Linked DNA regions of Homo sapiens: region 2 is linked to region 1. The links come from fine-mapping of genetic effects on gene expression. A gene starts in region 1. The other region holds a variant in brackets. All regions are shown on one strand. Distances are between the middles of the regions. Region 1 holds the start of KIF13A (kinesin family member 13A). Region 2 overlaps KIF13A (kinesin family member 13A).

Evidence for each region. PIP is the estimated chance that this variant, and not a neighbour inherited with it, causes the effect.
Region 2: its variant is the best candidate, but not a certain one, in a credible set for the expression of KIF13A in testis (GTEx, PIP 0.74).

Annotation. Positions count from the first base shown.
Region 1 is chr6:17,986,131-17,989,045 of GRCh38, reverse strand. KIF13A (kinesin family member 13A) reads left to right here and starts at 1,411. Exons shown (of 39, transcript NM_022113.6): 1 at 1,411-1,637; 2 at 1,902-1,992. The coding sequence starts at 1,583. RefSeq lists silencers at 836-1,335, 1,706-1,825.
Region 2 is chr6:17,837,927-17,840,841 of GRCh38, reverse strand. The region is part of intron 9 of KIF13A (kinesin family member 13A); the gene reads left to right. Among named protein-coding and RNA genes, the nearest start is that of NUP153-AS1, 130 kb to the right of the region's middle. The variant A/C (reference allele first, on the strand shown) is at 1,650.

The sequences.
Region 1 (2,915 bases):
TCAACCTTCCAGGCTCAAGTGATCCTCCCACCTCAGCCTCTCCAGTAACTAAGACTACAGGCACCTGCCACCATGCCCGGCTATTTTTTAAATTTTTATGTTTGGCAAGATGGGGTTTCTTTACATTGCCCAGGCTGGTCTCGAACTCCTGGCCTCAAGTGATCCTCCCGCCTCGGCCTCCCAAAGTGTTGGGATTACAGGCGTAAGGCACTGTGCCAGAGCACGAATACTGTATTTTCAATCAGATTTTGGTTGAAAAAAAGCCACGTGTAAGTGGACTCGTGCAGTTCAAACCCGTGTTGTTCGAGGGTCAAGCGTAGCATCACCTCGGTTGGAGGCGGACGGACCCCTCTCCTAGCACCTGCCGTACACTGTCTAGCATAATAAGTCTCCACGCCCTCTCTTCCACCTTAGCGTGTGCCTCTGCATCATGCTATTCATGTTTCTGTGTGTCCTCAACAGCACCCTGCACACAGTAAAACCTCAATGCATCTTCCAATAAGTGGATTTCTAGATTTAAGCAAAATCGAAAGATTCCTGGATCTAAACTCTGGATTTTTGACTTCTGTACGCTTCAAAATGCCTGGCACTCGGTGAGCGCCCCTTAAGCACTTGTTGAACCAAACAGAATAAATCGGATTCGCCCAGTTCCGCCCTGGCAGCGAGGTCTGCATTTGGCAGGATGACAGAATCCATTGCTATTAAATTCTTATGTAAGAGTTAATGGCCCTCCCAGCCCACTTGACATCCCTCCCGAGACAAGAGAGGCCGGGAAAGGAAGGGAGAGCACTATTTACAAACATACACTGTTTCGGTGGTGGATTCACAGATTCATTTCTAGTCTCGGTTCACCACAGAGATCTTAAAATACCGCTGCAGGCTCCGTGTGGGACAGAGGGGGCGGCGTGCCGGGACTCGGAGGGGAAGGCCTGCGCACCCAGCGCGGCGAGCCGTGGTCCTTGCTGCCGTCCCGGGGCTCCGGGTGGCAGCGGCCCCAGAAGGCGGCTCGAGCTCACGGCGGTGTCCGGGGGGGGGCCCCGCGGGCGCCGGTGCAGGCTTGGCCTGGGAGGTCCCCTGGGGAAACAATGCGTCCCGCCCCGGACTCCAGCCTCCCCTAAGCGCCGCGCTGCTCGCCGCTCCTCTCACTGCCGTCCCGCCGCTCCAGGGGGCGCCGCGCGTGGCCGTGTCCGGCCTCTCCCGAGCCCCGGCGGGTGACGGGCGCGGAACATGGCGGCGCGGGGCCCCGGGCAGCCGCGAGGGGCCGCGGCGCTGCGGTCTCGGCTGGGGCGGCGCGGCTAGAGCTGCGCCTGGGCCCGCCGGCGAGGCCTCCTCCCCGCCCGCCGCCGCCGCCGCCGCCGCCGCGCCCCGCCCCGCGCGCCCGCCCCTCCCCGGGCCGCGGCCGTGCCCCGCGTCGCGCTCCCCCGGGATGGCCCGCGCGCCTCGGCGCTGCCTCTCGGAGCTCACGGCGGAGCGGCGGCGGCCGCGCTCGAGGGGCGCGCGGCTGCAGCGGCGGCGGCGCCGCGCGTGAGGGGCCGCCTAAGGCCGAGCGGGCGCGGCGAGCGGCCGGGCGAGCGCAGCCAACATGTCGGATACCAAGGTAAAAGTTGCCGTCCGGGTCCGGCCCATGAACCGACGAGGTGAGGAGCTTTCCGCTCTTTTTTATTTCTGCTCGGGCTGAGGGCGGGGGCAACTTTAGAAACTGCGGGGCCGGGACGGCGAGAGCGCGGCCGGGGCCGGGGGGCCGGGGCGGAGGCGGCGTCCGCGCTGGCCGTGGTGCCCGGGGCGCCGTCTCCAGGCTCGGCCGCCTCCAGGGACGGAGCCCCGCTCGGCGCGGCTGGCGGGCGGGCGGGCTGGAGGCGCGGATGCTGGACTTTGCAACGTCCCTTTCTCTCTGCTTTCAGAACTGGAACTGAACACCAAGTGCGTGGTGGAGATGGAAGGGAATCAAACGGTCCTGCACCCTCCTCCTTCTAACACCAAACAGGGAGAAAGGTAAAGCGGGTTCCGAGAGGGCGGCTGGGAGGATCCAGCCTCGCGGGGTCCCGCAAGTTTGAGCCAGGAAAATGGGAGTGCTCTTTCCTATTGTTAGGAGGACGGCTTCAAGTTTGTCGCCGGCTCCTGTTTGAAGCTGTTGCAAGTCCAAGTTCCTCTCCTCCCTCGCCCCCCTTCTCCTCCATCTAGAGCGGCGGCAGGCAGGGCACCCTGGCCACAGCACCAGTCAGCTGAGCCCGGGCGGGCTGCGAGGCACCCGGGAGGGAGAGGGCCGGATGGGACCCCATAGGTGATTCGTCCAGCGGCCACATTTTACAGACAGGAAAACTGAGGCCCGAGGCGGGCAGGTGACCAGCCCACGACCTTATTGTTCGTGGAACCCAGTGTCCGTGATTCTTTTCATCACTGCAGGGTTTGTTTCCTTTGGCAGAATTGTTTAGGGACAGTGTGTCTAAAATGGGAGGAAAAAATAAAGCAAAAGTCTTGTACGATGTAGACTCAGGCTGGACTAGTTAGTATCTATTTTAGTTGTTGTTGCTGAGTTGAGATAATGCCTCAATGTAATGCGCGAATTTTGATTTTCAAAGAAACAAAAGTAGGGCCCTGAACTGTATAGACACTGAGGGATGTTTAAAAAGGGGCTGTATTTACTAGATGGCAACATATTTGCATTTGAAAAGTGGTAACTGTTGGATCCTTATTAATTCCGTTCTGTTCCATGCAACAGTATGGGTTAACGCCCCAAAATAATTTGAATATTTGGCATTTTTCTAGTAAGCCTCTGAGAAGAAATCGGTTGGAATTCATTCAATATAATAATGCAGTAGCTTGTAAATATATATATGTGAAAAAACGGGAGAGTTTACAATATTAATTTTCATTGGAAATGAATATGAGTTTGTGTTTCCACGAATCACCTGTTG
Region 2 (2,915 bases), 150 kb after region 1:
GGTTCTCAGTGGCCTCTAGCTTAAAATAATCCATATTCTGGCATCCTTCAGTCAGCTTGCAGACAAGACATATGATGGACATTGATGACACTGTATCTTTCCTTTTTTCTCTCAAAGCGCTATTTGGATTTTATGTTTCTACATTTAGGAGTACTAGAAACTTTCTGTGTTTCCCCCTTACACTGTCAAAGTAGAAATTATAAGTAGTTGCCACAAAGTAGAGGAAAGTCTTCTCTCGGTGATGGATAAATCCATGTCATCTCCAAAATGTATTTTCATGTGAAAGGTCACTGTCAACCATAAAGTTACTAATATTGACTTTTAAGTCACTGAACTCTTTAGAGCTTGTGTGAATTAAAATAATATGTGCCACACATAGATAGTAAAATATCTGGGATAGTTCAAAGAATTGTTTCCAATCAAAAATATCAATAGTTGCAAAATGTGAAAAAAATGCCCTGTATTCTATATTAAAGCAGAAATGTGTTTTTACCTTTTATTGAACTCCTACTTGCCTCTATTATCACATACAGTATTTTTTTCATAAAATTGTTACCTTTGGAGGAGTGATTGGACATATTTAATTTTTTTGAACAGCTGTATTAAGTAACTCACATACAATATAATTCACCATTGTAAAGTGTTCAATTCAGTAGCATTAATATATTCAGAGTTGTACCGCCATCACTACAGTCTCATTTTAAAACATTTTCATCATACCCAAAAGAAACCTTGTATCCAAATCATTCCCTATTACCCCCACCCACAGCCCTAGTCAACCACTGCCTCCATCTCTATAGATTTGCCTATTCTAGATATTTCATATAAATGGAATCATACAGTATATGGCTGTGTTCGATTGCTATTGCTACTGTAACAGATTACCACAAACTGAGTAGCTTAAAACAACAGAAATTTATTTCTCACAATTCTGCAGGCGAGAAATCTGAAATCAAGGGGTCAGCAGGGTTTGTTCCCTCTTAGCAGGTCAGAGGGAGAATCTGTTCCATGCCTCTCCCCTTGTTTCTGTAGGGCCATCAATCCTCGGCGTTCCCTGTCTTGTAGATGCATCACTCCAGTCTCTGCCTGCATCTTCACGTGGCCGTCTCCCCTGGGTGTCTTTATATGACCTTCTTATAAGGACATCACTCATTAGATTAGGGCCCTCCCTAATCCAGTATGATCTCATCTTAACTGATTACATCTGCAAGGACCCTTTTTCCAAATAGGGTCACATTCTGAGGGTCTGGCGGACATGAATACTGTTCAACCCAGGACAATGGCCTTTTGTGTTTGGCTTCTTTCACGTAAAATAATTTGCCAGGGTTCATCCGTGTTGTAGTTGTTGTGATACATGTATCTGAACTTATTCCCTTTTATGGCCAAATGATATTCCACTGTGTGTATATACCAGATTTTATTCATCACTTCATCATTTGATGGGCATGTGGTCGTTTCCACATTTTGACTTTTGTGGATAAAGCTGCTTTGAATATTCATGTACAAGTTTCTGTGTAGACTTATGTTTTCACTTCTCTTGGGTTAGATTTGTTTCACCTTTAAATCTGTCAAGTATGATGTACATTTTTGTGGATAAATGTATGGGGTACAAGTGCAATTTTGTTACAGGCACAGATTGTGCAGTGGTC[A/C]AGTCGGGGCTTTTAAGGTATCCGTCACCTGAATAACATACATTGTACTCATTAAGTATTAATTAAGCTTCTTGGCTGGGCGCAGTGGCTCACGCCTATAATCCCAGCACTTTGGGATGCCAGGATGGGTGGATCACCTGAGATCAGGAGTTCAAGACCAGCCTGGGCAACATTGTGAAACTCCATCTCTACTAAAAATACAAAAATCAGCCAGATGTGGTGGCGGGCGCCTGTAATCCCAGCTACTCAGGAGGCTGAGGCAGGAGAATCTCTTGAACCTGGGAGGTGGAGGTTGCATTGAGCCAAAATCATATCATGCCACTGAACTCCAGCCTGGGTGACAGAGCGAGATTCCATCTCAAAAAACAAACAAACAAAAAAATAAGCTCGTCATCCTCTCCCCTTCCACTCCCTCACCCTTCCAAGTCTCCATTGTCCATTCCAGTCTCTATGTCCATGAGTACACGTTATTTAGCTTCCACTTATGAGTAAGGACATGCAATATTTGTTTTTCTGTGTCTGACTTGTTTCTTTTATATATTTTTATTTTAATTTTTTTGACTTGTTTCACTTAAGATGATGTACATATTTATGCCACTCTGTGGTAATGGCTGTTATTAAAATTCTAACAGCCATTCTGATCAAATGAATTCTGGTTCATTTTCTGAATCTTGAGTTTATATTATATTTCGGGGACTTTTCAGTGACTCGTCTTTGGGGAATTATGTTTTGTGGGAAATAGGCTGCTTTCCTTTCAGCTTATTTGATGGAAATCTATTGTTAACATTACAAAGAAAGCTGTCTAGTCTTTCACTTGCTAGTTTGTGTCCTTCTTTGTTATTTGTAGTAGCATTTAACTTTTTTTTTTTTTTGAGATGGAGTCTTGCTCTGTCGCCCAGGCTGGAGTACAGTGGCGCGATCTTGGCTCACTGCAGCCTCCGCCTCCCGGGTTCAAGCAATTTTCCTGCCTCAGCCTCCCGAGTAGCTGGGACTATAGGCACACGCCGCCACGCCTGGCAATTTTTGTATTTTTAGTAGAGATGGGGTTTCACCATGTTGGCCAGGATGGTCTTGATCTCCTGACCCCTGACCTCATGATCCACCTGCCTCAGCCTCCCAAAGTGCTGGGATTACAGGTGTGAGCCACCACTCCCAGCTGCATTTAACTTTTTAAACCATTTACAAAGCACTTTCTTTTTATGATATTTTGGTTTTTTGGGGTTTCTTTGTTTTTGTTTTTTTGAAAGAGTCTCACTCTGTCGCCCA